Homo sapiens: one gene and its partners. The protein of the gene in region 2 purifies or fractionates together with the protein of the main gene of each other region. This does not show direct contact. Each region holds a gene or a part of one and is shown on either strand. Other genes may lie near its edges. The genes, in order: ANKS1A, DAB2IP and CGN.

Region 1 (8,089 bases), on a different chromosome or scaffold from region 2:
CAGTTGGGCTGGCACCAGAGTCAGGAGGCACTAGCCTGCTCTGCTCGCCCACACCCAGCCGCCTTGCGTAAGGCCCACCCAGCACCCATGGTGCCGAGCTCGGGCCGCACAACTCACTTTAGCTGTCAGCTGCTGGGGCCACTCCTGTGTCCTGTACTTCCCTCCCTCAGGGGTTCAGATCCCCTGTCCGCTCTTTCTCTGTGGCCTCTTGCGTCCTGCACTGCCTCCCCTGCTGGCCCCAGAGCCCTCTGTGCTCTCCTGGCCTCTGAGCTCCTTCTTGGCCCCTTCCTTCTCTGCTTACCCACGTTGTTCCCCAGAACTGCTTTCCCTGCAGCTTCACCTCGGCAGCATTCTCTTCCTCCTGCTCAGCAAAACCACAGCCAGACCAGATTCTGTTCTTCCTGTTCTCTGCCTGCAGCCCCGTGGGGGGCACCGCTGGAGACGCCTCCTCCGCTCCCGGTGCCCGCTCCAGCCCTGGCGGAGGTGGGCCCGTCTCACACTCCTGGCTCACCTTCTCAGGGCATCATTTCCAGGGGTCCTGGATTTACTCAGGACCTGCCTGTCCTGCCTCCCTCCTTGTACGGACCTTGGCTTTGTCCTTTGTCCTCTTCTTGGCCTGTCAGACACAGGATTAGCAGGTGTCCCTCAGGCCCCTCCGGGTGAACTTCAGCTTCACCCCTGCTTGTTTCTCTGACTCTCACTTCTCACTTCTGGCTCTGGGGACTTCCTTTCCCTTTCTACAAGCACAGCCATGAGTTTTAAAGGATTTTTAAACACATTGTCCAGCAATTCCGGTTGCTGTTGAGAGGCTCTGCGCACTGCTGGGAAGGGAGGGCCTCCGTGTTTCCTGAATCTTTTCCTTCCTCTCCATTCCTTCCACCAGTGCCCTGGACAGGGACCCATGATCTCTCACCTGGACCGCAGTGGCCTCCCCCACCCCCTAGCTGCTGCCAGAAGGATCCATTTGGAATGCATTCCTAGGCACGGGCGGGTGCTTCACTGGCTTCCCCGCTGTGAAGATCCCTCCCAGGCCCTGGGCTGGGTCCCAAGGCGTCCCAGGGTCTCGTGGGCGCTGTTCTCTCCTTTGGTCTTTGTGCAGAACAGCCTGGCAGCCTGTGCCCCCCACACAGACTCTGCCATCTCCTCTCTGGTCATTTCCCATCTCCTTTGAGACTCATCTCGGACACCACAGAGACTGTCCTTCCCAAGCCCTGCTCTCAGGCGGTTTGGGTCCCTGCTGTGCCTCTGCTGTGGCTAGCACCTCCCCTCTCCCGCAGTGTGTTTGAATTGCTGGTCTGCCCCCTGCCATCTCCACTCGACCCTTGAACTTGCTAAGGTCACTGGCATCTTCACCCTTGAGTGTGCTGGAGCCAGGCAGCAAGCCCATGTGCTCCTCTGGAGCAAGGAGCAGGTGTCCAATTGCGTGTGTTTCGCAGGAGGAGCACCGTGAGGCCAAGCTGACCCTGCGGCCCCCGAGCCTGGCAGCCCCCTACGCCCCAGTGCAGAGTTGGCAACACCAGCCAGAGAAACTCATCTTCGAGTCCTGTGGTTATGAAGCCAATGTGAGTTGCTCCCACCCTCCCAGCAGGGCCGGCCTCCCTGCTCCTTCTCGGCCAGGCACCTGCGGCCAAGTCCCAGCAGGGACTCCACAAAGCCAGGCCCAGGGCTTTTGAGCTGTTCTCCACTCTCAGCCACTCTTGACAGCTAAGGCGAAGGGGTGGAGGCCTCTGGATCCTTTAGCTAGGGAGTTGAATGGAGGGTCTCTCCAGCTGGGGCAGGAGAGGGGGTGTTGTTATTGAGAGGGGTAACTACTTGATTGTGGGACAGTCCCAAATTGGTTGGGTCACCCCTGCATGGAAACGCAGGATTTCCTAAGCCTGGCCACTGCTCGCCCCCACAGTATCTGGGCTCCATGCTGATCAAAGATCTGCGAGGGACAGAATCCACGCAAGACGCCTGTGCCAAGATGCGGGTAGGGTGCCTGTGTGGGCTGGAGGGCGCTGTGGGACTGGCCAGCAGAAGGCAGCAATGGGGGCAGTAGCTGCAGTTGCCTGGGCCCTGCTGCACTATGTAAGGATGGGAAGGAAGCTGGGACCTGTGGAAGCCCAGGAGGCTTAGCCCTGAGAAGGGGCACTGACAGGGCCACCCCTTGTTTCCTGTAGAAATCTACGGAGCACATGAAGAAGATCCCCACCATCATCCTGTCCATCACATACAAAGGTGTCAAGTTCATCGATGCCTCCAACAAGGTGTGCTGCTTACAGGGACTCTTGGTGGGAGTGGGACCCACATCCCCGTCAGACCCACAGGGCTCCAGGGCAAGCAACCCGGCTGCCCTGTCTCATCTCTTATCTCCCTAGAGGGTCCCCAGTCCTCTTATTACTTCCCACTTTGCTAAGAGGCGTGTCTCTCATCTGCTGGCCTGGGTGCCTGCTGTCAGCCCCGTCCCCGCCCTAGTGATCACTGCTGTTAGCCTCGCCACCTGGGCTCCACTGGCCGCACACCTGCTCACAGGTGTGATTCCCTCCGTGAGCAAAGGACTTTCTCTGTGTGCCACCGTGTGGGATCCCACCTTCCTGACACCCTTCCCACTTTGCCCCCACCCTGGAAGGTGGGAGGGGCTGGGGAGAGCTTGTGGTTGGGTGTGAACATTTTACTGCCTTAGTTGTTGTGGTAAGGGGTGGAGACCCCAAACCAAAATCGGGGACCCCCACCCCCACCAATAAACAAAATGAGAAGATGAAGGGGGGTTTGCTTGATGCTCTAGGCTGGGACAGAGAACAGTGACAATGGTAACAGGCTGGGGCAGGGGGTGCCAGAGGCATGCCTGAGCCTGAGAATTCCAGAACACGGCTTTCCCCAGCAGAACGTCATTGCAGAGCACGAGATCCGGAACATTTCCTGTGCGGCCCAGGACCCGGAGGACCTCTGTACCTTTGCCTACATCACCAAGGACCTGCAGACCAGCCACCACTATTGCCATGTGTTCAGCACCGTGGATGTGGTGGGTGGGGTCCTGGGGCCGGGTGGGGCAGGCTTGGGTTGCAGCCCTGAGGCGTCCAGCCCCATTGCAGGGCACAGATGCGGCGCTGTCCTGGCCCCTGGCCAGTGCCTGGCAAATGTTTGGTTCATGAATGGAGCCCAGCAGCACTCAGGCCGGTCCCCTTTCACAGTGATGAGACTGACGCGCAGAGGGAACAGGGACTGGCCCAGGGCACTAGGGACAGGAGGTTCCAGCTTTTTTTTTTTTTTTTTAAGAGATGGAGTCTCACTATGTTGCCCAGGCTTGCCTTGCACTCCTGGGTTCAGGCAAGTTACCCACCTCAGCCTCCCACGTAACTGGATAATAGGCGTGAGCCACCGCCCCTGACTTTCCAGCTTTTTGGCGAGTGTTTTCTTAGGTCAGGCAAGGCCTTTGTTTCCCCCGGCTCCCTGCCCTAGGTCTCCAACCTCTGGCTGGGCCGCCTCCCAGAAATGCCCTCTACTTCCCTCTTAGGGGCAGTGGTGCCCTCTTTGGCAGATTTTCTTCCCTCAAATTCCTGCTGAGGCTCGGCTCTGGATGCCACTGGGCCGAGGAGAGTTCATTCTCACACAGCTGCCCACAGGGAGCAGACCAGAACTGACAGCCCACAGGCGGGGGTTCCCTCTAACCTGCAACAAAGCATGAGAGTGGCCCCAGGCTGCTTCCTCACCCCGGGAGGAAGTCAGAGGGGTCCAGGTCTCTGCCGCCCTCAGGGATAGCAGCTGCTTCCAGAATCTCTGTGGCTCCTGGAATACAGGCAGCTCTGGGCATCCCCACACTCCTGGGACCTCATCCACCCCAGTCCTCTGTTTGCTCTGGGCCAGTGAAGGTTAGGAGGAACCAGGCTTTGCTGCTTGCTGGCTGTGTGAGCTTGGAAACATCGCATCTGCCTGCTTCCTCATCTGTCTGGAGGGGATATAATGTGGCCCACCTCAGGGGCCACTGTGAGATGGATGAGGTGGTCCACACAGCACAGTCAGTGGCATTTACCTGTTGCTGACTTTTCCCACATACACTCAGTTCTGCTGTAACGCCACACATACGCTCCTAACAATCACTGTGCTGTGTAAAATCACACAAGGAAAACCACAGGGTTTATGGGGAAATGGAGTTAGGGGCACAGCACTCACAGACTTTGTCGGTGACACATTAAAAATAAAAGCACTAGCACCACTTACATTAAATGGTAAGAAATACCCAAGTACTGCTGCAGGCACGGCACCCTGCCTTGGAAAAGACCTGCCGTAGGCTTACAGCAGTGTGCACCTGCCCTCCCCGCAGCCCAGCTCCCGGCCACATCCTGTGTAGAGCGGGAAGAACAACAGAGACCTAGGAAGAGTAAAGGAGGGAAAGGAGGGAAGAGTGGAAGGAGGTAGGAGCGCTCCCGGGTAGACTTAGAGGGGGACACATGGTCCCTGCGAGGAAGGGCATATCCAGTGTGAAGCGGCTCCTGAACCAGGTGCTTAAGTGGTGATCTGCTTCCTCCCAGAACCTGACCTACGAGATCATCCTGACGCTGGGGCAGGCCTTCGAAGTGGCCTATCAGTTGGCCCTGCAGGCCCAGAAGTCCAGGGCGACGGGCGCCTCTGCAGCTGAGATGATTGAAACAAAATCTTCCAAACCGGTGCCTAAGCCTCGGGTCGGCGTGAGGAAATCCGCAGTACGTGGGCCCCACTGGCCAAGATCCCCCTCTCCCTGGCCCCAGGGATTCAAGGGCTCAGGGTGGTCAGCGTGAGGAGGGTCTTCTGGCACTTCCAGAAAGCTGGCCCTCCAGGGAAATGACCCTCTTAATTGTCCCCCAACCCTGCCAGGTCTCGCCCCTGGAAAGGCAGCAGCTCCTCTGGCCTGGGCGGGCCTCTCATGCTCCTGTTTCCCTCCCTCGCTGGGCTCCCCCAAGGGCAAGGCCGTCAAGGGGCTGCAGAGAGCGGCCTGCAGGCAGCCCCCAGTAACTGCGCCATCCCTGTGTCTGTGTCTGCTTTGCTCTGCACCCCAGGTGCCGCTGCCCCCCGATAGTCGCTGTTGTTACTGTCACACCTGCACCACCCACCGTCCTTCCTACCTACCGCTGCCATCTGTTAGTCCTGGAGTCAAGGTCTTTACGCCTCCTGCTGTCTTGTGTGTCAGTCTCCCCGAAGTGACCGTGAGCGCTCTTAGCCTCTGGCGGCCTCTCCCTCTGCCTGTGTGACATTCTTTCCCCTCTTCCTGAGATGCCCTCTGCCTGTTCTGTGTGTGCTTCAGCCCTCTCTGTTTTTCTGTTGTGTGTCCTCTCTCCAGAGGTCTGGGGTGACTGCTGTGGTCTTGCCTTGGGGTGAGCTCTCTGGGCCTACCAGAGAGACCCGAGGCTGGACATTTGCAAGCCCCATATCCCCTTCCTGCCCAGTGTGAGTGGGTCTGGGGCTTAGAGCAGGAGGCCCGCCTAGGACAGGGGTCCTTTAACTGAGCAATCCCAAGAAATCCCGGAGAGAAGCTGTGCCTGGAGGTGGCCCTCCCCAAGATGCTCCAGGAGGGTGTCCCTCCTCCGCCTGCCCCCAGGGGCCTGCTCTTTGGCCGAGGAGAATAAGGGCTGCCCCTCCCAGCACAGGGGCCACAGCCTGGCCTGGGGGTGGGAGGGGCCTGCTGCCTCCAGCCCTGGCACAGAGCTCCCTCTGACTCTTGACTGCTTCCTTGTTTGGCAGCTGGAACCACCTGATATGGACCAAGATGCCCAATCCCATGCCAGTGTCTCCTGGGTTGTGGACCCCAAACCAGACTCTAAGCGGAGCCTCAGCACCAAGTATGAGACCACTATCTTCTAAAACAACCCACTCCCTGTCTCCACTAGTCTCACTGTGCCTTTGCCATCCGATCTTTCTGCTGTCCTCAACTCTCTCCTTCCAGCTGCTGATGCCAAGGCCCCACCTGCACTGGGACCTGCTCCTCTTGGGCGGGCGGCAGCGTAGACGCTGTACACTTGCAGCTCTCGCACCTACCACCACCGAACACTGTGAATTCTCCCCCTTGGGCTGAGGACAGCTTGAGGGGGTGAGTTGCCTTTGAGGTGGGCATCAAGAGGGCTCAGGGGTTCTGTTGCACCCTGGAAGCCTCCACGGGCAGGCACTGTGAACCCCGACGGGCAGGGCAGTCTCCAGCAGGATCCCAACGGCACTGATAGCTCCCCAGGGTTGGGCTGGGCTCTGTGTGGCTCCCTCCTCCTGTCTGCTGTACTGAGCCACAGCTGGGCACCGTTGCCAAGAGCTAGCTGACTGTTCTCACCTCTCCTGAACCAACCAACCACTGTGACCACCCAGTGCCAGAGTCCCCAGCACTCTGCTCACAGCCGGCCTGCAGCCCCACCCCACTGTCCTCCGCTACTCCGAGGTGCTGGCCTCACTCTCATGGCTAGGCCCTTGTGAGACCTTGAGCTCAGTGATGTGGCTGGACCAGGGACAGACTGCTTTCTGTGAGGGCCCAAGATATGCGCCAGGCCCTTGGGTCCGTGCTGACTGCCCCACTTGGGGCTCTGGGTATCTGAACACTCACAGGCTGGCTCACACAGCAGGTGTCTCAGTCCTGATGGGCCTTCCCCTCCAAGGAGGTGGGTGGCATGTGTGTGGACAGCCCCTCTATCTTCGCCATGGAGTCTCAAGGCCTGGCAGCCTTGGGCCTGGCTCTGGAGTCTAGCTCACTGAGGAGGAAGGCCTTCCGTAGAACCAACGAGGAGGCGGCCTGTGCCCTGCACACACGGCGCACCTTCTTCCCTCACAGAACAGAGCTGCTGGAGGACAGGGACCTGGACCAAGTGGCCTCCATTGTCCTCTGGGAGCTTTCTGACACTCTCCACGGTGGGGGATCACAGATAGACAGCGCCGTCCAGCATGCCCCTGACCACCTCCCTCAGCCTCCTGACTCCTCCGAAAGGAGAGGCCGTCCCATCGCAGCAGCTCAGAAGCTGGGATGGTGGAGCTGAGTCTTTGAAGAGGCACCCCATTCTCCAGTGTGGGCAAATCAGTTTGGATGGCAGGAGACAGGAAGGAAGCGGCGCCCATAGGCAGCCGTGCACACATAGCAGAGTCCACTAGGAAAGCCAGTCGGCCAGGGCAGTCAAAACCCAAGTCGATAAACTGGGTGGGTCCTGCGTACCCACCCATCCTTGTGCCTTCCTGAGCAGAGTCACTGAGCCAGAGGCAGTGGGGGCTGCAGGCTGTGGGTGCTCAAAGCAGGCATGGAGGGTGCCCCGGGGAGGCTGTGAGGGATCGTCTGTCCTGCTCTGTGTTTCCTTTCCATTTCCTCCACCGTCCGCAGGCCCCATTGGTTAACCCTTTCCTCCCCCCATTGTTTGCTTCTGCCAAGCTGAGCCACTGAGGAACCACACTGTGCTGCGGAAACATAGACGTGGGGGCATAGGCTCCCACTGCCACCACCGCCATCGCCTCACCTGCAGCTCTGAAGACCCAGGCCTCACCTCCGCCTGCAGGACCTCCTCTTGGCCACTTGGCCTGGGCCTGCCACCACCACGTCCTGCAGAACGAGCCCTGCCTTGGCTGTGGAGAAGCACTCCAGGCCGCTAGCAGATGGGACTGGCATTCCAGAGGGTCAAGAAGTGACTTGTTCAGAACACATTGTTTTTAACAGAAAAAAAATCTTTTTATAAAATGAACTTTTAACACTTGGCTCAAACCTCTAGGTCATACTGCCAATCTTTAGACAAATGGCCATGGGGCAGAGGACAGGGGAGCTGAGGTTGGTTCAGAGGCCAGCCTGCATAGCCTCTGTCCTCAGGACGGAACTTGGGTGCAGCTCAGTGGGTCGGAAGAGAAGGCGGTGGCCTGTGGGTGAGGGGAACGGAGCAGGCTCAGGCAGAATTGAGTACGGTGCGTCTGCTTTTCAAACCCAACCATATCAGCTGCTGCTCTTTATGAACTGCCCAACTTCCTGTCCCTTTCAGGGGCTAGACACAGGCTTCTCGTAAGAACACAGCCTTAGAGGCACCTGAGCAACTCAAAGGTTTCCGGTCCATTTCTGGGGTTCCCGATGGGAAGGTTCAGTGGCCAAATGAAGATAAGTGTGCAGTTTCTAGTGCTGGGAAGT
Region 2 (11,002 bases):
GCCCAGAGACCTGGAACCTCAGCCCCAGGCCTGGGCCAGGGAGAAAGGAGGGGCTGTGGGCGTCACTGGGGCCCAGGGCCCACCTGGAGCTTGGCAGCGTTTCTGGGTCAGGGCAGGGAGAGGAAGTACACAGAGAGAGTGGCTCCAGGCTTGGCCATCTGGGCTGAAATGCCGGCTGCTAGGGTTGGGGTGAGGAAGGAGGGCTGGGGCTGGGGCCTGGAGAGTGGATTAGTCTCCCCTGGGCCACAGGATTGGAGCCCTCAACTTCAGGGCAGCCAGTATGGAGGGGAAGCCCAGGGCTCCTGTGGGCAGAAGGCAGCAGGCATTCTGGGAGAGGTGGTCCAGGCTCTCGACGGAGAGAGGTGGTCTTGGCGGCTGTATTTGGGTTCCAAGGTGGAACCCACCCTAATCCCCAGCCCCATGTGACCTTGGGTGAGTCGCTCCCTCCCTTGGTCTCACTTCCCCATCTTCAGGAAGGGATGCTGCCCCACCCTGACTGCTCTGTGCTGGGATGAGAGAGCCAACCAGACCCTCAGTGATTGCAGAGTTGATGCCAGATCCCAGTTTGCCATGGGTTAGGGAGGGTCCTCTGGGTAAGCAGCTGATTTTGAGGGCCTCAGCTTCCCCCGTTCATCAGTTTCTCTCAAGGTTCCTTCTACCTCGGACATTCCGGGGCTTTATGACAGGCTGTCGACGTGTACGAGGGAGACGTGCATGTCCTCTTCTCTGGGCTTCTGGAGGACTGGAGGGGACCTGTAGGTGGCCCTTTGGGGAATGGGGAGATTTTTAGATCCTGATGGAATCTCTGGGAGGTGAGCTGAACAGAGCTGTCTCATCTCCATTTAACACGTGGAAACCTGAGACCCAGAGGTATCACACGGTGACCCCCTCTTAGAGTTCCGGCCTGTCCCGAGGGCTCTGCCCTCGGCCCAGCCCTGGGTGACTTGATTGGAAAAACACTCACACTCCCCGAGGCTCTGTCTCTGTGTGTTCAAATGTCCACGCTTGACTGGTCCCCCACTTCCGCCTGTGTTGAGAGGGGCAGAGCCATCCAAGCCTGGGGTCATCTTGTCCCTGACTGCACCGTTTTCTGCAAACGATGTCATTAAATATATCGGTGGCTTTTGGGAGGAAGTCTGGGGGGCGGTGGCAGTGGTGGTCGCCTGGCTAGCCTGGAGTGCTTTAGTGTGACCTCTTGGGGCTTGTCTATGCTTTTCCCTGAATGGGGTGACCTGGCCCCAGCCTCCCCCATCTTCCTAGTGAAGATCCTGCTCCTGGTCCAGCCTTATTCCCGGATGAACAGTGGATGCAGGAAGTCGTCATTGCCTGCCAGACAGGCCACCTCCTGGGGCAGAGGCCATGACCTTAACCACAAGTGTCCCGCCACCCCCCCCACCCCGACCCTCTGTCCCCCCCACCCCCACCCCTGCCCAGAGCTCCAGAGACTGAAAGGTTGAGACTGTCCTGGGAGGCGGATGTGTGCAGGCCTGCCTGGCTGGGGACTTCCCCGGTCACCACCACCCACCCTCATCCCAACAGGAAACCTGACAGGTCTGAGCCTTCCAGACACCCATTGTGTGGGGCCTAGTGTGGGCTCCGATGCTTCCCCTGTCAGGACTCCTGTCGCCCCTAGCCTCCTCCTGTCCCTTGACAAAGCTGGCTATTAAAGAAAGTTCTAGACTGTTTCCACTCCCCCGTCTCTGCATTCCGTACTGCTCAACCTTATGATCGTTGCTCCTTTCAGCCCCCTGGGTTCAAATCCTGCCTCCTAGTGCAAGCCCTGTGACTTTAGGGAACTCACCTACCCTCTCTCTGCCTCTTGACATTTCTTCTGGAAAAAGAAATAACCATCTGCCTCCTAGGATTATTCTGAAATTAAATGAGATGATGTGGGTAGAATGCTGAGAACAGGATCTGGGACAGTGCATGCTAGATGCAGTTCAGCTACCATGATTAGGATTAAACCCAAACTCCACCCTCAAACAAACCTCTTGAGGTCAAACTTGTAACCCTCCTCTGTTAAGAAGCCTTGGGTTTCTGTGGTGCCCCACGCATGAGCATCTCCCCTTCCCTGGGGGAGGCTGGTGTTTGAAGATAACTGGTTGTGGTTGCTGTTATCATCCCCCCTGTACAGAATGGCCCATCAATGAAGGCTGTGCTCTTCTGTTTTGTGCTTAGCTGCAGAAATGGGTGATCTGTCTTAAGATTGGAGGAAACACTATGCTTTATGGGCAATTTAAGGCTTTTCAAAGGTAATTTTGGCAATATGCTTTTTTTTCTCTCTTTTCTCACTGACTTCAACCCTGACACCGCAGAGGGACTCAAGACTGCCTTGGGCTAGCCTCCCTCCCCTGCATCTGGTGCCCCTGCTGACCCACCCTGGCCTGGCCCATGATGTACCTGGACTTTCAGCCCAGCTCTGATGCTACCCACTGCTTCTTTTCCAGCAGGGATGCTGATGGTTTTCTGCCTAGAGGGGAATTTTTTGGGTCCATCCCTCCCTGGTCTTCACAAGTAGCCTCCTGTGTCCCCATTATTCAAACTGACTAGTGGGGTATACCAGGAGCCAGGAGGGGGGTGTCTCTCCTTGGAGTCAGAGTAGACTTTTTTAAGGAGGGGGTGCTTCAATTTGCAATTGCAAAAATGTATATATACACACACATATATATACATAAACACACATATATACGTATATATACCCATATATACACATATATATACATACATATACATATATATTATATATATACATACATATACGTATTATATATATATACGGGTATATATGTATATATATGATGGAATACTACTCCGCCATACAAAGGAATGAATTAATGGCATTCCCAGAAACCTGGATGGGAATTGGAGAATATTATTCTAAGTGAAGTAACTCAGGAAAGGAAAACCAAACATCATATATTCTCACTCATAAGTGGGAGCTAAGCTATGAGGATGCAAAGGCAGAAAAATGACACAATGGACTTTGGGGACTCAGGGAACGGGTGGAAAGGGGGTGAAGGATAAAAGACTACAAATTGGGTTTAGTGTATCCCAAGTTACTGCTCGGGATATGGGTGCACCAAAATCTCACAAATCACCACTGAAGAACTTACTCATGTAACCAAATGCCAACTGTTCCCCAAAAACCTATGGAAATAAAAAATTTAAAAAATAAAAAACTGAGGGGATGCTTGAGCTGGGTCCTGAAGGGTAAGCAGGAATGCACCAGGTGGGTGCAGAGGGAAGACCTTGGTGGCAGCGGTCCAGGTCCCACCAACAGGGCGAAGACTGGTGGTGGGAAAGAGTGTCTGGAGGATGACCAAGGGGGCTGAAATGGGTTGGGGTGCAAGCGGGAGGTGGTCGCTTTTTGACACAGCTTGGTCTCTGAGAGTTCGCCTTGGGAGGCTTTTGAGGGGAGGGTAAAGGTGCTGGTGGTGGGGTTAGGTCAGATCTGATTTAGCCAGTCCTAGTACCCACACCCCTACTTACTAAACTTGCATGTTTCCAGGCCCCATCCAGACCCACTGAATTGAGCGTCTTGAGGGAAACTCAGAAATATGCCTGTTCACTGAGTGAAGGTGATTTGGGGGCTGCAGCCCTGTCCCCGCTAAAGCAGCACATGGGAGAGGTGGGAGCTGGGCCTATTCAGGAGCCCCTCTGGAGGTGGGAGAATAAGACCAGACCTTTAGCCCTGTAGGTACTGAGGCTCTCATGTTGGCAGGGCTGGAAAGTCCGATCTGTTGGTCTGTCACAGGAAGCAGTGGTAGCAATGGTGGTGGTGGGCACTGGAAGCAGGGCTTCTCCTGTTCAGAGAGAGAAAGCCACAGGGGCGCCGGCGGGAGGTGGGAGCAGATGGGGGGCCAGTTTCCCAGCAGGATTGATTCCAGGTCCCCTGCTGGGCTGTACAGGGAGCGGCCTTTAACTGCCCTGTTCCTGGGCCAGGAAGAAGGAAAAGGAGCCTGGGCTCTTTCTCTCCTAGCTCCTGCCCTGCCCCCTTCCCACTCAGTACCCGGAGAGTACCTGCCCCAGGCCCGTGGAGATGCTCGGCTCAGCTGGTTGGCGATGCCCATTCCCATCCCAAGGGTAGAAATGCACAAGCTTCCTCCATTTCACTAGCTGACCCTCCTTCCTCCACAAGGCAGATGGATTGGGGGTCCATACGTTCTCCCTATAGGTAGGGAAACTAAGGCACAGAGAAGGACTTGAAAAGCTGAAGTGGGGAGACCATGCCAGACCTTTGGAGCCCAGCTGTGCTTACAGATGAGGTCCTGAGTTCCAAGTTACTGCCCCCTCTCCCCTCCACACACACTCCTCAGACTTCCTGTTGGGGGCCCAGGCTAAGACCACTTGCCCACACCACTGATAACAGTGAGTTGATTGTGAGCCTCCCGTCCCCTCCAGGGAGGGCTGGAACCTGGCTGATCAGAGGGTTCCTGCTTTGGGAAACAAAATGGGCCAGATGAACTCAGGCCCTGGGAGCAGGACCGTTGCCCCCGTCCTGAGTAGGACTTCCTGGGAGTCCCTCACCCCCAGAACCCGTGGACCTGGCTACGGAGGTTAGTCATGCCTGGAAGTGCCAAGATGTGGACAGGTGGTGCTCAGAACCCCACCTACGTGAGGAGGCACTGAACTGGGTTCTGGCAGTTTGGCCAGAGGAGGATGCATGCTAACAAGGCCCCCAGCTTGCCTGGGGACTGAGTGACTGTGTGTGCGCTCTGTCCAGGGGCTTCTTTTTAGAGACGTTCCTGCACCATGTCTGCTGTTGAAAGGAGATAGGGCAATGCCTCCAAGCTTGTCTGACCTGCAGCCTACCGGCTGCATGTGGCCCAGGATGGCTTTGAATGCTGCCCAACACAAATTCATAAACTTTCTTAAAGCATGATGAGGTTTTTTTGTGTGTGTGGTTTTTTTGTTTGTTTGTTTGTTTTAGCTCATCAGCTATGGTTAGTGTGAGTATATTTTATGTGTGGCCTGACAATTCTTCTTCTTCCAGTGTGGCCCAGGGAAGCCAAAAGATTGGGCACCCCTGGCCTAACCCAAAGGAGGCTAAGGGTGTCCTCTTGGGCACCCTGGTTTTCCATCTTCCTGTGGGATTGGCCAGTATTCAGGGAAGAGGGGACCAGGGCAGCTGATAGCTCTGGACTCCTCAGACTGAGTTTGCTGGAGTAACACCCCTCCTGCCCCTCCCCCCTGGTCAGGGAAGGCGCCTGGCTTCCAGCTGTGAGACAGGCTCCGCAGGACTAGGGACCCTCCCCGCTGGCTGAGAGCGCTAGGGAGGGGGCTTCCCCTGTGAGGTGCAAAACCCGGCCTGGATTTCTGCCCAGACGGCCCCGCCCACTCCAGGGCCCCACCTTCCCCACTGTTCTGGAGGAAGATCCCCTAGCCGGCCTCAGGCACTTGCGGTGACTCACACCCCCCACCCCTAAGTCTGAATGTTGAGAGCCCCAGGCTAAGACCACTTGCCTCTGCCACTTTCCATGTGACTGAGGCAAGACCTCCTTGCCAAGGCCTCAGTTTCCCCCTCTGTACTTCAAAGGAGGCAGCTCAGGCAGGTGTCTTAATAATTTAAACGACGAATATTGCTAAAGAGATAAGGGGCGGGGAGAGAGAGAGATCACTGTGGGCCATGGTTAGGGAAGGGTGGAGGAGCTGGGTCCTGAAAGGGTGGACTTTGGTCGGGTGGAGAAAATAGCCAAGAAGGCAGTCCCTGCTGGCAGCACAGCAAAGAGAAGTGAGAATTAGGGGGAGCAGAGGTGAGGCTGGAGGGGACTTTGGTTGGGGCAAGATTATTTGGGGTCCAAATAACAAGGATGTTTAGACGTATTGCCATTGTGCTCTGGGGAGCCACGGAAAGCTCTTGAGCTGAGGAGTGACTTGGAGAAAGTTTTTCAGCCAATGCAATAGAGGGAGTTGGTACCTTTCCTTCTGCCACCCTGAGTTTCTGGTGCCTACGGTAGGGTAGGGATTGTTCTGCCCTGCCTTCAGTGCTTTGAGTGCTTGAAACAGACACCGTAATTTTAATTACATAAAAATGATACGTGTATCAGACGGGACAACCTTTAAAACGTAAAGAAGAGGCAAGTATCCTGCATCACAGGGGAGTCTTTCAACCTGGCTGGGCCAGGGCCTGCGGAGCAGTGAGGGTCGTTTCTCAGCCCAGCGAGCCTGGGGCAGGAACGGACCCTAATTGAAGGTGACCGTCCCCAAGCATGCGTCCTACCCCGGGCTCCGGAGAGCGCACAAGCAGGTGTGCACCGTCTACCCGCGCTGGCGGGATTGGGTGCCTGGTGCGCCCTCAGGTCGACGGTCGAACCCTCGGGGGCGGGGGTGGGAGCCAGAACCCTCGGGACGACCCGTCTGGGGTCCCGGGGAAACTCCGGGCCGCCTCGCCCCGCCGATTCCAGGCCGGGATTTCTCCCGCACTGACTTTCCGGGCCGGTGCCAGCCCGGCCTCCGGGTCCCCAGCCCCCGCCGCGGGGCCGGCTGCTCGGGGAGCGGGAGGGGGCAGGAGGCGGAGGAGGAGTTTGAGCGACTTTGTGGGGCAGCCAGGGCCTCGGCGGCCGCTCGGGCGAGCGCGGGAGAACGCGTGGGCGCCCGCCGGGCTGTCCGGAGCGGCCGATGGGGCCCGTGTGAGCGCGCCCAGGCCCGGCCCGGTGCCCGGCGGGCGGCAGCATGTCCGCGGGCGGCAGCGCCAGGAAGAGCACCGGGAGGTCCTCCTACTACTACCGGCTGCTGAGGCGGCCCCGGCTGCAGCGACAGAGGAGCCGCTCCCGCAGCCGGACCCGGCCTGCCAGGGGTAGGCGCCACCCCGACCCCTGACCCCTAGACCCTCCTAAGGCCACTAAGCCACCTGATGCCCTGGGATGCTAGGGACCGGGATCCTCCTTCCAGCCATTTGCCGGGGGTTTCCTCATCCGCCCCTTCCTGAGTCTGCCGGACCCCCCATTCCCCCAGCTTCTGCTTAGTCCTCCTCTCGCCGGGGGAAGCCGAGGCTCTAGGGTCTCCTCTTAAGCCAGGGACAGGGAGAGGGGAGCCTGGAATCTTTCTCCGCATCTCAGATCAGACCTCCTACCCCACTGTGCCTCAGTTTACTCAGCAGCCGGGCAATAAAGTAACCCAGGGTGGATCTGAGCTTTCCCACACCTTGCCTTCCCAGCCCAGGCCGCGGACTTCTTTCTTCCCTTTCCAGGAACTTAACGGGCTCCCCACCTCTTGGGTGCTAGGACAAGTGGGTGGACCTCAGGGAAGGAACCGTGACCCCTCGAGCGGGTGGGCGCCAGCTCCTTTGCAAAGTTTCTCTCCATCAAGCTCAGGAGGCAGGACGAGACGGAGGGGGAGGTGCGAGCAGCATTTTCTTTTTCCAGTAACAGGATCCTCGGCTGGAAATGCGTGTGATCCCGGGGGCTGCGTTTGGGCGGGTGGTGGCCGGGACTTCCTTCCCTGGCTGAGTAGGAGGGAGGGAAGCCCCTGGGAGGAGGAGGCCTTCAAAGGGGCTCTGGGGAGGCTGGAGTCCTAGGCAGAGGTTCAGGCCCACCGAGGGTGCCCGTGGGGTGGAAGGGAGGAGAAAGACGGCGCCTTAGCAGGGACCTGGGCCGAGTTGACACCATCAGGTTATCTTGAAAGTGGGAAGCCGGGCCCTGTGCCAACAAATGCCATGCAGGGAATCTGGTAGACCAAGAGGGGCCACATTCCCACCCTGCAGGCTGCCGTTGTGTGACCTGGGCTGAGCTGCCTCTGAACTTCAGTTTTCTTGTCGGTGTGAGGGTAAATGAAGCAGGCAGGTAGTGTTCGGTTGCTTCCACCAGAATGGGGAAGACTTTTCCCACAGTCAGGTCTGAGTAGCACTGTGCAGTCCAGGGCTTCCTCAGGAAGTAGTGAGTTCCCTGTGCACAGAAGGGTTCAAGCTGAGGCTAAGTGTGTGCACAGGTGTGTGCTGGTAGTTCAGTCCTCAAGGGTCTCTCAAAGCCTGCAATCCCCCCACTCCTGCCTTTCCTGAAGTCTTAGTAAGTACAGAATTAACAGTACTAAGTTACTTAGTAAGTACAGAATTAACAGTACTAAGCCTTTAGTACTCCTTGGAGGGAGTACTAAGCCTTTAGTACTCCTTGGAGGGAGTACTAAGCCTTTAGTACTCCTTGGAGGGAGTACTAAGCCTTTAGTACTCCTTGGAGGGAGTACTAAAGACCTGGGGAAGGCTTTATCTCAGTGGTTCAGGTTTTGGTTCTTCTATCTCTGTCCTTCTATTTAATTCTGTACTTGCTAAGACCTGGAGAAAGGCTTAGTACTGTTAATTCTGTACTTACTCCCTTCCCCTGGACTTGGTCTGGGAGACCGGGAATCTGGGCTCAAGCTTTGTGACTTTGGGCAAGTCATTTCCCCTTTCTGAGCTTAGTTTTCCTGGTTGTAAAATGGACCTGCCGTATGTGGAGGATTCAGTGAAGAAACTGAGAAATGGGAGCTTTGAAAATGCCCAGTACTGTTCAGACCACCCTGGGGCCTCTCCTTCTGCACCCACCTCACGTCACCTCACCCACCCGCCCCTCCTTTGCCTCAGAAATGCCCTGTGTGACCTTTTCCTCTTCTCACCTCAGCCCAGTTCCATCCCTGACTGTAATGGGAGTCTCGCTCCTGTTCAGCTGACCTCCTGCTCAGCTGACCAGGCAGGGGATAATCAATGTGTCAGGGGCTGTCACCTGAGCCCCAGCTCCCAGACCCCACATACACAGGATCACTGCTTGTGTCCCAGCTTGAAGGAGCTCACGGCCTGCAGAGCGGGGAGGAGACTGTCTCTGAACAGAAGTTATATCTGGGGAGATCAGGGAGAGCTTCACAGAGGAGGTGACATTTGGATGGGATCTCACAAAATGGATAGGGTTTCCCTTCGCAGAGGGAGTAATTGAGTCAGATCTGGGTTCAAGTCTCAGCTGTGCACACAACTATTCTACAGCCAGTTACCTCTCCAAGCCTCAGTGACCTTGTGTGGTCAATGGGGCTAGCAGTGACAGGGTCATGTGAGGGCCAGAAGCCAGTGCCTGGGACTAAGGCTGCAGCTGAGGGTGAGCTACTGTCTTCTCTCTGGACAGAATGAACAGACTGCGCAGTCAGGGAGAAGGAAAACGGCTTGGGTATTGAGAATAGAGTTCCTCCTGGGTTTGGGGAGGGGAGTGGATTGGGAAGGGGGCTGGGTGAGTGGGTGGGGAAGAGCAGGCAACAGTAGTTTGGATTTGATAAAGGGCCTTGAACTTTGGGAGGCCAAGGCAGGAGGAATCCTTGAGCCCAGGAGTTCAAGACCAGCCTGGGCAACATAGCAAGACCCTGTCTCAATATTGTTTTTGTTTGTTTGTTTGTTTGTTTTTTTAAAAAAAGAAGGCCTGGAGTGATGAGGAGTTAGTTACAGCTGCAGCCAGGGTGTAGGGTGGAGGCTGGAGGCACCCTGTCCTCCTCCTCCTTGGTGGGAGGCAGCTAGGGCAGCCATTGCCCTCCCTCCACTAAAGCCTCAGACGCCTGACTCTACCCCAGAGCCACAACCACCACCTGAGGGCAGGGCCCCACCCAGGGAGAAACTCAGGCTGAGGAAGCCACCCTGTGGCCTTTGAGCCAGTCCCTTCTGACCTTGAACTTCAGCCTCCCCATCCACATGGGGGCTTGGTCCCATGGTGTGGTAGCATCGGACCTCAGAGGAGTGGGTGGTGCCTAGCATCTCAGCCTGGATCAGACTCTTGCCCCCACACCCTTTCTGGCCTCTGGCACTAGCAGGGAAGGAAAATGACCAAGAACTCAGGCTGTGTATTTGTTCAGAAACAGAAAAATGCAAGGAAGAGTTGGTTGCTGCCAGGTTCTGCAGGTGGCCAGGCTGGGGGAAGGGAGCAGGGCTTTGTCCCTGGTAGGGCTGTGAGTGAGGGACAGTATCTGCAGTCTCCCTAGTTTGACCAATAAGGGACTTAGGTTCTTCCCTTTTCTGGGCTTCAGTTTCCCCATCTGAAGGATGGGCAGAGTGAGACCTGCTGTGGTGGGGGGTAGAGCACGAAGCTGGAGGGTAGCTGGAGGTGGGGTAGAAACAGTGACCTTCGGAGGGTGAGGGCCATTTGCATTTTCCCACTGTGTCCCTAACTCCACTTGAAGGCTGGGCATGTCCCATGGATTTGGGGGGATCCTTTCCCCAGAAGGGTATCATCAGCAAGGTGCCTCCCCACCTAGTCACACCAAAATCAAGAAAAGTTTTGTCTCTGACCCCTGTGTTTCCCCAGGGCTGCTAGGAGAAACAGAAATTTTCCTCTAGCCCTGGATAAAGTTCTGACCCATTCATTCAGCCAGTCAGCTCCTCTTAAGCACCTACTATGTGCTGGGCTTCAGCTTGGGTGCAGGGGCACATGGAGATGAATCACATGTGCTCCCAGCCCTTGCCAAGCCCCCAGTCTGTTGGGGAGGCCAGCTTGTTGGGGTGCACTAGGGCACAAGTCTCTTTCTAGGGGACAGAGCAGTGGTTAGTGGGAGGCAGGGGCTGTAGTTCCAGCTCAGCCGCGGACTGGTTGCATGACTGGGCACATCATAGGGCCTCAGTTTCCCCATCTGTCGAGGGGGGTTAATCTTGCTCTCCTGCCTCTTGGAATGCCTATACCCATAGCCATGAGGGGTTTTGATTATGTTGTTCATGTTTTCATCTGAGTTTTTCTAGGGGTCCAGCCACCTGCCAGGCCCTGGCTGGGAGCTGGGGGTTTTGCAGATGTTTTTCTCTTGAGATGGTCAGGTCCTCCTCCGTGCCTGTACACACCCCTCTTGCATGCCTCTGTATCTTGCCCGCGTGGTGGGAGAGGATGGTTTCATACAACTGGTTCCTAACCAAGAGAACAGTTAGGTAAGGACCTGTGTGCCACCATGGGGGGTGGGTAACTTCTCAGGGGACCCTGGCTTTTTTTTTTTTTGAGACGGAGTTTTGCTTTTGTTACCCAGGCTGGAGTGCAATGGCGCGATCTCAGCTCACCGCAACCTCTGCCTCCCGGGT
Region 3 (10,237 bases), on a different chromosome or scaffold from region 2:
CAGTTTGCAGCTGGTTGAGATGTTTGTTGAGGAAAATCTGGTTTACAGCAACAGTGCAGAGGTGCATCCTGTGTTGGCCTCTCCCTGGCCTGTTGCTCAGGCCTCCACAGCATGTTTTCCTTGCTGCATTTCAGGATTGTTCATCATGCTTGAAGGGACTTGACCTGAGACTGCCACTTCTCCTCCATCTGAACCCCACGCATGCTTCTGGCCTAATCTTCCTATTTCTTTCTTTCTTTCTTTTTTTTTTCTTTTTCTTTTTTTTTAACAGTTCAAATCAACTCCAGACCTCCTTCGAGACCAGCAGGAGGCAGCCCCACCAGGCAGTGTGGACCATATGAAGGCCACCATCTATGGCATCCTGAGGGAGGGGTGAGTGGGGGCCCCCCCAACAACAGAGGCATACCCCTCCTTCTTTTTCTTCTAGCTTTGTTTCCCATCTTCCCTGATTTTACCCTTTCCTGATCTCTGCTACCTCTTTCCTCCCCTAACCCTTGCTTCTATCCTTTTATCCTCTAGAAGCTCAGAAAGTGAAACCTCTGTGAGGAGGAAGGTTAGTTTGGTGCTGGAGAAGATGCAGCCTCTAGTGGTGAGTGGCCTTCTCTGGATGGGAGCAAGGGTCAAGGTTAGAGCTTTGAGGGCCTCAGGGGATCCAGACTTGGACTCACTCCCTTCCCCCACACCCCCCATATCTCTGGCAGATGGTTTCTTCTGGTTCTACTAAGGCCGTGGCAGGGCAGGGTGAGCTTACCCGAAAAGTGGAGGAGCTACAGCGAAAGCTGGATGAAGAGGTGAAGGTAAGGAAAGGTTAGAGGTGCCGGAGGCATGAAGGAAAACAGGGAAAAAGCCTTGGCCTGGAGATGGGCTGAGCTGACCCTTCTAAGCAATGGAACAAGCATGTTTGTGTCTTATGAGACAAGAGACAAGAATGTGTACTAATTCCAGGAAGGACTTCTGGGGTTCTGTGGGGGTTAGGGAGGCAGAGCACATTAGGAATCTACCTACCTTCCATTCCACTCCCTTTGGGAGTTCCCATCCTGGCTCTGCCCCTTACTAGCTATATAAAACTTAAGAAAATTACTTACATTCTCTGTGCCTCAATTTTTTTTTATCATTATCATAATAATGGCAATAGTAGTAGCTATCATTTATTGAGTATAATTTTGGTAGTATGTACTGTCCTGGGTACTGTAATCATTATAGTTACCCTGTGAATACCTATTCTGGACCCTTTTCTGATGAGAAAACTGAAGATCAGAGAGGCTAAGTAAATTGCCTATGGTAGTAAGTTGCAGAGAGGAATGAAAAAATCCGGGTCAGTCTTATTCTAAAGCCAGTGTACCCTTTTTAAAAACATGTCTTCTGCCTTTCATCATATTGGTTTGTGTGTAGTTGGTGCTCAATAAATGTTGGATTGTAACTTCCCTTGTCTTTTGGAAATCACTGTAGTGTAATGATTAAGTGATTGGCTGTGGAGCCAAACTAACTGGGTTCAAATCCTGGTTCTGTTACTTGTTGGCTGTGTAACTGACCTTGGGCAAGTTCTTTAAATGTTCTAAGCCTCTGTTTCCTAAATTGTAAAGTGGGGATTATGATAGTACTATATTAATTAACTATTGCTGTGTAACAAATTACCCAAAACTCAATAGCTTTAAACAAACATTTCCCAGCCGGGCGCAGTGGCTCACACCTGTAATCCTTTGGGAGGCTGAGGCAGGCAGATCACCTGAGGTTGGGAGTTTGAGACCAGCCTGACCAACATGGAGAAATCCTGTCTCTACTAAAAATACAAAATTAGCCTGGTATGGTGGCACATGCCTGTAATCCCAGCTACTTGGGAGGCTGAGGCAGGAGAATTACTTGCACCCGGGAGGTGGAGGTTGTGGTGAGCTGAGATCCTGCCATTGCACTCCAGCCTGGGCAACAAGAGTGAAACTCTTTCTCAAAAAAAAAGCATTTCCCAGAGTCTGAGGATGAAGAACCTGGGATCAGCTTAACAGGGTAATTGTGGCTCTGAGCCTGTTATAAGGTTCCAGTCCAGCTTCTGGCTGTGGCCAAAAGAAGTAAATTGGAGGATCTGCTTCTAAAATGGCTTACTCAGGGCCAGGCATGGTGGCTTACGCCTATAATCCCAGCACTTTGGGAGGGCAAGGTGGGAGGACCACTTGAACCCAGGAGTTTGAGACCAGCCTGGGCAACATAGTGAGAACCCGCCTCTACAAAAAATTAGCCAGATGTGATGGCATGTGCCTGTAGTTCCAGCTACTTAGGAGACTGAAGTGGGAGGATTTTTTGAGCCCAGGAGGTTAAGACTGCAGTGAGCTGTGATTGCACTGCTGCACTCCAGCCTGGGTGCCAGAGCAAGACCCTGTCTCAAAAAAATATAAATAAGTGAATGAAGCAAACAAAACCAGTTTAATGAATAAGATAGACAAAACCAGCTTAATTGGCTGGGTGCAATGGCTCACACCCATAATCCCAGCCCTTTGGGAGGCTGAGGTGGGTGGATCACCTGAGGTCAGGAGTTTGAGACCAGCCTGGCCAACATGGTGAAACCCTGTCTCTACTGAAAATACAAAAATTAGTTGGGCATGGTGGCAGGCATCTGTAATCCCTGCTGCTTGGGAGGCTGAGGCAGGGAGACTTGCTTGAACCTGGGAGGCAGAGGTTGCCATGAGCCGAGATTGCGCCACTGCACTCCAGCTTGGGCAACAGAGCGAGACTCCATCTCAAAAAACAAACAAACAAAAAAAACAAAAAACCAGGCCGGGCGCTGTGGGAGGCTGAGGTGGACAGATTACCTGAGGTCGGGAGTTTGAGACCAGCCTGACCAACATGGAGAAACCCTGTCTCTACTAATAATACAAAAATTAGCCAGGTGAGGTGATGCATGCCTGTAATCCCAGCTACTTAGGAGGCTGAGGCACGAGAATTGCTTGAACCCGGGAGGTGGAGGTTGCGGTGAGCTGAGATCTCGCCATTGCACTCCAGCCTAGGCAAGAGCAAAACTCCATCTCAAAACAAAACACCAAGAAAAAAAAAAAATCAATAAAAATAATAAAAACCCAGCTTAATCAAATGGCTGTTGGTTGTAAACCTCAGTTCCTGGCTGTTTGGCCTTCCTCACAGAGCTACTTTTGAGTATCCTCACAATATAACAGCTATTTTTTTCCCAGAGTGAGGGATCCAAGAGAAAAGCTGCAATGCCTTTTTATGACCTAACATCAGAATTTACTCATCACGTCCTCCTTTTTCTGTTTGTTAGAAGGAAGCCCCTAAGTCAAGCCCGTGCTCGAGGCAAACAGAATTAGGCTTTATCTTTTGAAAGAAATGTCAGATAATTTGTGAACATATTTTACATCATCACAAGTACCAAGGCTAGTTATGAGGATTAGATGTGGATAATACACATAAGGTCCTAAGTATAGTGTCTATCATACAGCAAGTGTCCAATGAGTGTTAGACATTCCCATTATTCTGAGTCTTTCTGAGAGGCTTTCCCTACCCTCTACCTGCTGTACTCTCATTCCCTTTTACAGAAGCGGCAGAAGCTAGAGCCATCCCAAGTTGGGCTGGAGCGGCAGCTGGAGGAGAAAACAGAAGAGTGCAGCCGACTGCAGGAGCTGCTGGAGAGGAGGAAGGGGGAGGCCCAGCAGAGCAACAAGGAGTGAGTGCAGCTGGTGGCGCACCTCGGGCTGCTTGGGGGCCTAGGCCAGGTTTAGAGGCCACTCCCTCTTTGCCCCTAGGGTTGAAGGAGACAGAAGGAAATCTCCAGAAGCTGAAAGGGGCAGTGTTGGTTTAAGGACAGGATAGGGCCTTTCTCTCTACCTTCTTTATCAATAATGGTGGTAGTGCATGATTTGGAGTTAAGCTACCTGGGTTTGCCTCTGTCTCAGATTCTTAAGCTATAAAATAGACTTAATAATAGTACCTACCTCACAGGATCATTGTAAGGATTCAGTCATCCATTCAGCAGATGTTTCATCAAGAATGCTGTGACAGGCATTAATCTAGGTTCCCAAGACACATCAGTGAACCCTATAGATGAAGGGCTCGCTCTCCAGAAGCTTAGTTTCTACTGAGAGGGAACAGACAGTAAACAAACATATTTTGCAAGTAAATTTGTAACACACGAGAAGGCAGTAAATACAACAGGGTAAGGCAGATCAGGAGGGCCAGGTTGTAGCGGGGCAGGTTGCAAAAATCAGGGGAGGCCTCATCAAGATTTGAAGGAAGGAAGTTTAAATGCATTAATAAATATGAATTAAAATATATGATGCGTTTAGAGAACTGCCTGACACATAGTGTGCAATAATGTTATCTATTATTAGGCTCCAGAACATGAAGCGCCTCTTGGACCAGGGTGAAGATTTACGACATGGGCTGGAGACCCAGGTGATGGAGCTGCAGAACAAGCTGAAACATGTCCAGGGTCCTGAGCCTGCTAAGGAGGTGTTACTGAAGGTAGGGTCTGGGGTCATATGCCCCAGCCTCTGCTTTTTCTCAGTTGGAGCATCCTCAAGTCTGCTCATCCATGGTTTCCCCAAAGTATGAGGAGTGGGTGGCTGATTACAGGTACTCAGTGTGCTTTCAGGTAGATTCAATGGTGTGTTGGGACTAGAGTTAGGATAAAGGAAACCTATCATTCTGGGCTCCAGTACTGGTACTAGAGCACCTGGTACTGTGCCTAATACGATAAATATTTTTTGACTCAGTGAATTGATAAACAGATGGATTCTAATATGGTCACCCCTGTACTTCTTCCTTTATTTTCTCCAGGACCTGTTAGAGACCCGGGAACTTCTGGAAGAGGTCTTGGAGGGGAAACAGCGAGTAGAGGAGCAGCTGAGGCTGCGGGAGCGGGAGTTGACAGCCCTGAAGGGGGCCCTGAAAGAGGAGGTAGCCTCCCGTGACCAGGAGGTGGAACATGTCCGGCAGCAGTACCAGCGAGACACAGAGCAGCTCCGCAGGAGCATGCAAGATGCAACCCAGGCATGTGACAAGAGCAGGGTCTGAGAGAGGAGGGCACTGCTGGAGAACAAGGCTGCCTTGGGATCTTGGACTTTTGGACTTTTCATGGTTGCAACTGGGAACTCCCCCTCTCCTCCTAAAGGACACAGTGAGATCTGCTGAAAACCTTGGGCAGGAAAACTATAGGGGCAGAGGGAGGGAGTACAGGCCAGAAGTACCTTGAGGTTGTGTGACAAAAGTCCCAAGGGGGACTGGGTGCGGTAGCTCATGCATGTAATCCCAGCACTTTGGGAGGCTGAGGCGGGTGGACTGCTTGAGCTCAGGAAGTTAGAGACCAGCCTGGGTAACATGGAGAAACCCCATCTCTGCCAAAAATACAAAAACTTAGCTGGGTGTAGTGATGCGTACTTGTAGTCCTAGCTACTTGGGAGGCTAAGGCAGGAGAATCGCTTGAACCAAGGAAGCGGAGGTTGCAGTGAGCCGAGATCATGCCATTGCACTTCACCCTGGGCAACACAGCGAGACTCTGTCCCCCTAAAAATAAAAAGTCCCAAGGGGAAATAACTGGGGAGGTTTCCTGTAGATGATAGAGGGGTGGACTGTGACTTGAGGAGAGAATCTCTGCTAGCATTGTACCAGGTACCACAAGAGTGTCAGGGGGTGCACCTGGCATGGTGCCCTCTGGGTCTAAGCCTTTCCTTGTACACACTCACACTTTGATTTGAAGTGACCTCTTCCCTCTGAGCCTTCTGGTGTCCAACTCTCCCCTTCTCTAGGACCATGCAGTGCTGGAGGCCGAGAGGCAGAAGATGTCAGCCCTTGTGCGAGGGCTGCAGAGGGAGCTGGAGGAGACTTCAGAGGAGACAGGGCATTGGCAGAGTATGTTCCAGAAGAACAAGGAGGATCTTAGAGCCACCAAGCAGGAGTAAGGACATTGGCCCTCTCAGAAATACCCATGATTCATATGCCACTTCCTTTCTTTTTTTTAATTTTTAATTTTAATTTTAATTTTAATTTATTTTTTGGGACAGAGTTTCGCTCTTGTTTCCCAGGCTGGAGTGTCATGGCACGATCTTGGCTCACTGCAACCTCTGCCTCCTGAGTTGAACAGATTCTCCTGCCTCAGCCTCCCAAGTAGCTGGGATTACAGGCGCATGCCACTACGCCCAGCTAATTTTTGTATTTTTAGTAGAGATGAGGTTTTACCATGTTGGCCAGGCCAGTCTCGAACTCCTGACCTCAGGTGATCTGTCCACCTTGCCTCCCAAAGCACTGGGATTACGGGTGTGAGCCGCTGCGCCTGGCCCCCTTTCTCCTTTTTTTTTTTTTTTGAGATGGAGTCACACTCTGTTGCCCAGGCTAGAGTGCAGTGGTGCAGTCTTGGCTCACTGCAGCCTCCGCCTCCTGGGTTCAAGCGATTCTCCTGCCTCAGCCTCCCGAGTAGCTGGGATTATAGGCGCCTGCCACTAGGCCTGGGTTTTTTGTATTTTTAGTAGAGACGGGGTTTCACCATATTGGCCAGGCTGGTCTTGAACTCCTGACTTCGTGATCCTCCCACCTCGGCCCCCCAAAACGCTGGGATTACAGGCGTGAGCCACTGCACCCAGTCCCTTTCTTCTTTTTTTTGAGACAGGGTCTTGCTCTGTTGCCCAGGCTGGAGTGCAGTGGCACAGTCTGGGCTCACTGCAACCTCCACCTCCTGGGCTCAAGCCATCCTCCCACCTCAGCCTCCCGAATAGGTGGGACTATAGGCATGCACCACCACACTTGGCTAATTTTTGTATTTTTTGTAGAGACGGGGTTTCATTATGTTGCCCAGGCTGGTCTTGAACTCCTGGGCTCAAGTGATCCATCTGCCTTGGCCTCCCAAATTGCTGGGATTACAGGCATGAGCCACCATGCCTGGCCCACTTCCTTTCTATCTATGGTATGCTCTTACTCTCCCATTTCTCAAACTGCTCTTTTCCACGTTCACCTTCCTTCCTCTTGAGAGTTGGTGCCCAGCGTGTTGGCCTCCAGAGAGGTGGCTTTTATTGTCATGCTAACCTCCCCCAGGCATGTGGCCTTACTCTGTTCCCTTTCCCCTTTATTTCACCTTGCCTGGCTCAGACTCCTGCAGCTGCGAATGGAGAAGGAGGAGATGGAAGAGGAGCTTGGAGAGAAGATAGAGGTCTTGCAGAGGGAATTAGAGCAGGCCCGAGCTAGTGCTGGAGATACTCGCCAGGTTGAGGTGCTCAAGAAGGTATTTGGGAATTGGGGGGCAGAATGGTAGGTAGGGGTGATGAACACCTGCCTTACCTCTCCATGAGGGCCTTCTTGCTAGTGGGGCTATCTCCTGTGTGCTTGGTTTCCAGGCCTCATCCTGCCTGCTCAGCTTGATCTCTTTCCAGCACAGCAGCACCAGTCTCCTCATTGAGCATAGAGGTTTCTAATGGAAAGTGCTCTCAGAACCCAGGTTGGGGTATAGCCAGAGGCTGCTGGCCGACTCCCAAGAGACGTCATGGGTAGCAGCATTTAGGTGGATTTGTGAAACTCCAGGATGATTTTTGCAGGCTCAGAAATCTAATTTGGTCAGCATGGCAAAAGCTGCTTTGTCTTTCAGAGGGGTCTCTAACTACATTTATGAAAAAATGTTTACCATTAGAATTTCAGTTTATTAATTTACATTGAGAAATATCATCACATGGACTGGAATACTTGTGTTGGCATGGCCTGGTTACTAATGTAACAAAACTAATTAGCAAAAGAAAAATAGCAGAGTATATGGTATTACATTGAAGATTCACTACATATTATATAACCCTTTAGCCTAATTATGGTACTTTCTGAATTTCAGAAGTAGCTAATAGCTAATAATTAGAACCAGAACTCCTATTTTAATTTTCTTTTTAAAAGAAATCAGAGCTGTGCCAGCATTTATTGTGTCACACATTTTGGTTTTATACACACACACACACACACACACACACACACGAAAGACAAGTGGCAGCTGCAGGGATTGTGCTGACCTGTTCTGTCAAAGTCTCTCCAGGTTGCTCTTGCATGCAGTTGGAGATCCCATGGCCACACTATATATATATATATATTTTTTTTTTTTTTTTTTTTTTTGAGACGGAGTCTCACTCTGTCACCCAGGGTGGAATGCAGTGGCGTGATCTCGGCTCACTGCAAGCTCCGCCTCCTGGGTTCACGCCGTTCTCCTGCCTCAGCCTCCCGAGTTGCTGGGACTACAGGCGCCCACCACCACGCCCGGCTAATTTTTTTTGTATTTTTACAAAAAAAATACACGTACTCAGTGTTTCACCGTGAAACATGGTTTCACCGTGTTAACCAGGTTGGTCTTGATCTCCTGACCTTGTGATCCGCCCTCCTTGGCCTCCCAAAGTGCCGGGATTACAGGCGTGAGCCACCGCACCCAGCCTCACACTGTATTTTTTTTAAACAACCAGCCTTACTAGCCATACCTTCATGTACTCTCCCTTCATGGTATTTTTTTTTTTATGGAGTTATATTTTACATGCTATAAAAGTCATCTTTGTGTACAATCCAATGGGTTTTTTTTTTCTTTTTGAGATGGAGTCTTACTCTGCTACCCAAGCTGGAGTGCAGTGGCACAATCTCGGCTCACTGCAACCTCTGCCTTCTGGTTCAAGCCATTCTCCTGCCTCAGCTTCCCAAGCAGCTGGGATTACAGGCACACACCACCACGCCCGGCTAATTTTTGTATTTTTGGTAGAGACAGGGTTTCACCATGTTGTCCAGGCTGGTTTTGAACTCCTGACCTCAGGTGATCCACCCGCCTCAGCCTCCCAAACTGCAGGCATGAGCCACTGGCGCCTGGCCCCCAGTGGTTTTTATTATATTAACAAAGTTGTACAACCATCATCACTATTTAATTACAGAACATTTTCATTACCCCCTCAAAGGCGCCAAACCCATTAGCAATAATTCCCCCCACCCAATGGCAACCACTAATCTACTTTTTGTCTCTGGATTTACCTATTCTGGATATTTAATATAATTGAATCCTATAATATATGGGCCTTAAGGGTCTGGCTTCTTTCACCTAGCATAGTGTTTTCAAGGTTTGTCCATGTGGTAGCAAGTATGAGTACTTCATTCCTTTTTATGGCTGAATAACATTCCACTCTGTGGGTATACCGTGTTTAGTCCAGTCATCAATTCGTGGACATCTGGGTTGTGTATCCATCTGGGCTATAATGAATAATGCTACTATGAACATTCGCGTATAAGTTTTTTTGTGAACACATATTTTCGGTTCTCTTGGGTTACCTAAGAGTGGAATTGCTGGTGATATAAATGGTAAATCTGTGTTTAACTTTTTGAGAAACTGCCAAACTACTTTCCAAAGTGGCCACATCAGTTTTTATTCCCTTGGCAGTGTATGAGAGTTTCAGCTTCTCCACATTCAGGTATCTTAGTCTGGCTCTGGGTGCCCCATCACCATTCCCGTTTCCTTCCAGGAGCTGCTCCGGACACAGGAGGAGCTTAAGGAACTGCAGGCAGAACGGCAGAGCCAGGAGGTGGCTGGGCGACACCGGGACCGGGAGTTGGAGAAGCAGCTGGCGGTCCTGAGGGTCGAGGCTGATCGAGGTCGGGAGCTGGAAGAACAGAACCTCCAGCTACAAAAGACCCTCCAGCAACTGCGACAGGACTGTGAAGAGGCTTCCAAGGCAAGGGGAGTGGGCACAGGGCTTAGGAGGTGGAGGCTGAGGGTGTCTGGAGGGCTGAGGAGCCAGAGGGTGTGGAAAGTTACCTGTCATGGGTATGTACTGACCAGCTCCTGGGTCCTAGGCATGTGGTTCAAAGAAGCCAGGATTTGGCAGGGGGAGGATACCTGTATCTGTGTAGGGGTGGGATTCTCAGAGAAGCGTCTGGCTGGTGGCAGCTGCTCTCTTTAAGCCTCATTCTTATGGGCTGTCTTTGGGATGGCTTTCCTGGGTGTGGTCAATGGCCCCAAGCCCTGGGGTCTGAGCTGCCACGCCCTGGGGTCTGAGCTGCCACCCCCTGAACCGTCCTTAGGCTAAGATGGTGGCCGAGGCAGAGGCAACAGTGCTGGGGCAGCGGCGGGCCGCAGTGGAGACGACGCTTCGGGAGACCCAGGAGGAAAATGACGAATTCCGCCGGCGCATCCTGGGTTTGGAGCAGCAGCTGAAGGAGACTCGAGGTCTGGTGGATGGTGGGGAAGCGGTGGAGGCACGACTACGGGACAAGCTGCAGCGGCTGGAGGTCAGTGGTTCTGCCC

What was found.
Region 1: the proteins of DAB2IP (region 2) and ANKS1A purify together in Homo sapiens (affinity purification with mass spectrometry; 2 studies listed by BioGRID and IntAct, with this or other methods). This does not show direct contact.
Region 3: the proteins of DAB2IP (region 2) and CGN purify together in Homo sapiens (affinity purification with mass spectrometry; 2 studies listed by BioGRID and IntAct, with this or other methods). This does not show direct contact.

The regions. Positions count from the first base shown.
Region 1 is NC_000006.12:35,081,255-35,089,343, forward strand, and holds part of ANKS1A (ankyrin repeat and SAM domain-containing protein 1A), read left to right. Parts: intron 1-1,436; coding exon 1,437-1,562; intron 1,563-1,900; coding exon 1,901-1,972; intron 1,973-2,162; coding exon 2,163-2,249; intron 2,250-2,863; coding exon of another isoform or gene 2,864-2,866; coding exon 2,867-3,004; intron 3,005-4,511; coding exon 4,512-4,682; intron 4,683-5,697; coding exon 5,698-5,795; coding exon of another isoform or gene 5,796-5,817; exon of another isoform or gene 5,818-7,345; intron 7,346-7,351; coding exon 7,352-7,355; 3' UTR 7,356-8,089. UniProt on the Homo sapiens protein: Regulator of different signaling pathways. Regulates EPHA8 receptor tyrosine kinase signaling to control cell migration and neurite retraction.
Region 2 is NC_000009.12:121,645,104-121,656,105, forward strand, and holds the start of DAB2IP (disabled homolog 2-interacting protein), read left to right. Parts: upstream 1-6,530; 5' UTR 6,531-6,672; coding exon 6,673-6,796; intron 6,797-11,002. UniProt on the Homo sapiens protein: Functions as a scaffold protein implicated in the regulation of a large spectrum of both general and specialized signaling pathways.
Region 3 is NC_000001.11:151,519,895-151,530,131, forward strand, and holds part of CGN (cingulin), read left to right. Parts: intron 1-271; coding exon 272-372; intron 373-519; coding exon 520-589; intron 590-701; coding exon 702-797; intron 798-3,539; coding exon 3,540-3,667; intron 3,668-4,331; coding exon 4,332-4,464; intron 4,465-4,779; coding exon 4,780-4,992; intron 4,993-5,747; coding exon 5,748-5,896; intron 5,897-7,080; coding exon 7,081-7,213; intron 7,214-7,936; exon of another isoform or gene 7,937-8,044; intron 8,045-9,455; coding exon 9,456-9,665; exon of another isoform or gene 9,666-9,670; intron 9,671-10,014; coding exon 10,015-10,221; intron 10,222-10,237. UniProt on the Homo sapiens protein: Probably plays a role in the formation and regulation of the tight junction (TJ) paracellular permeability barrier.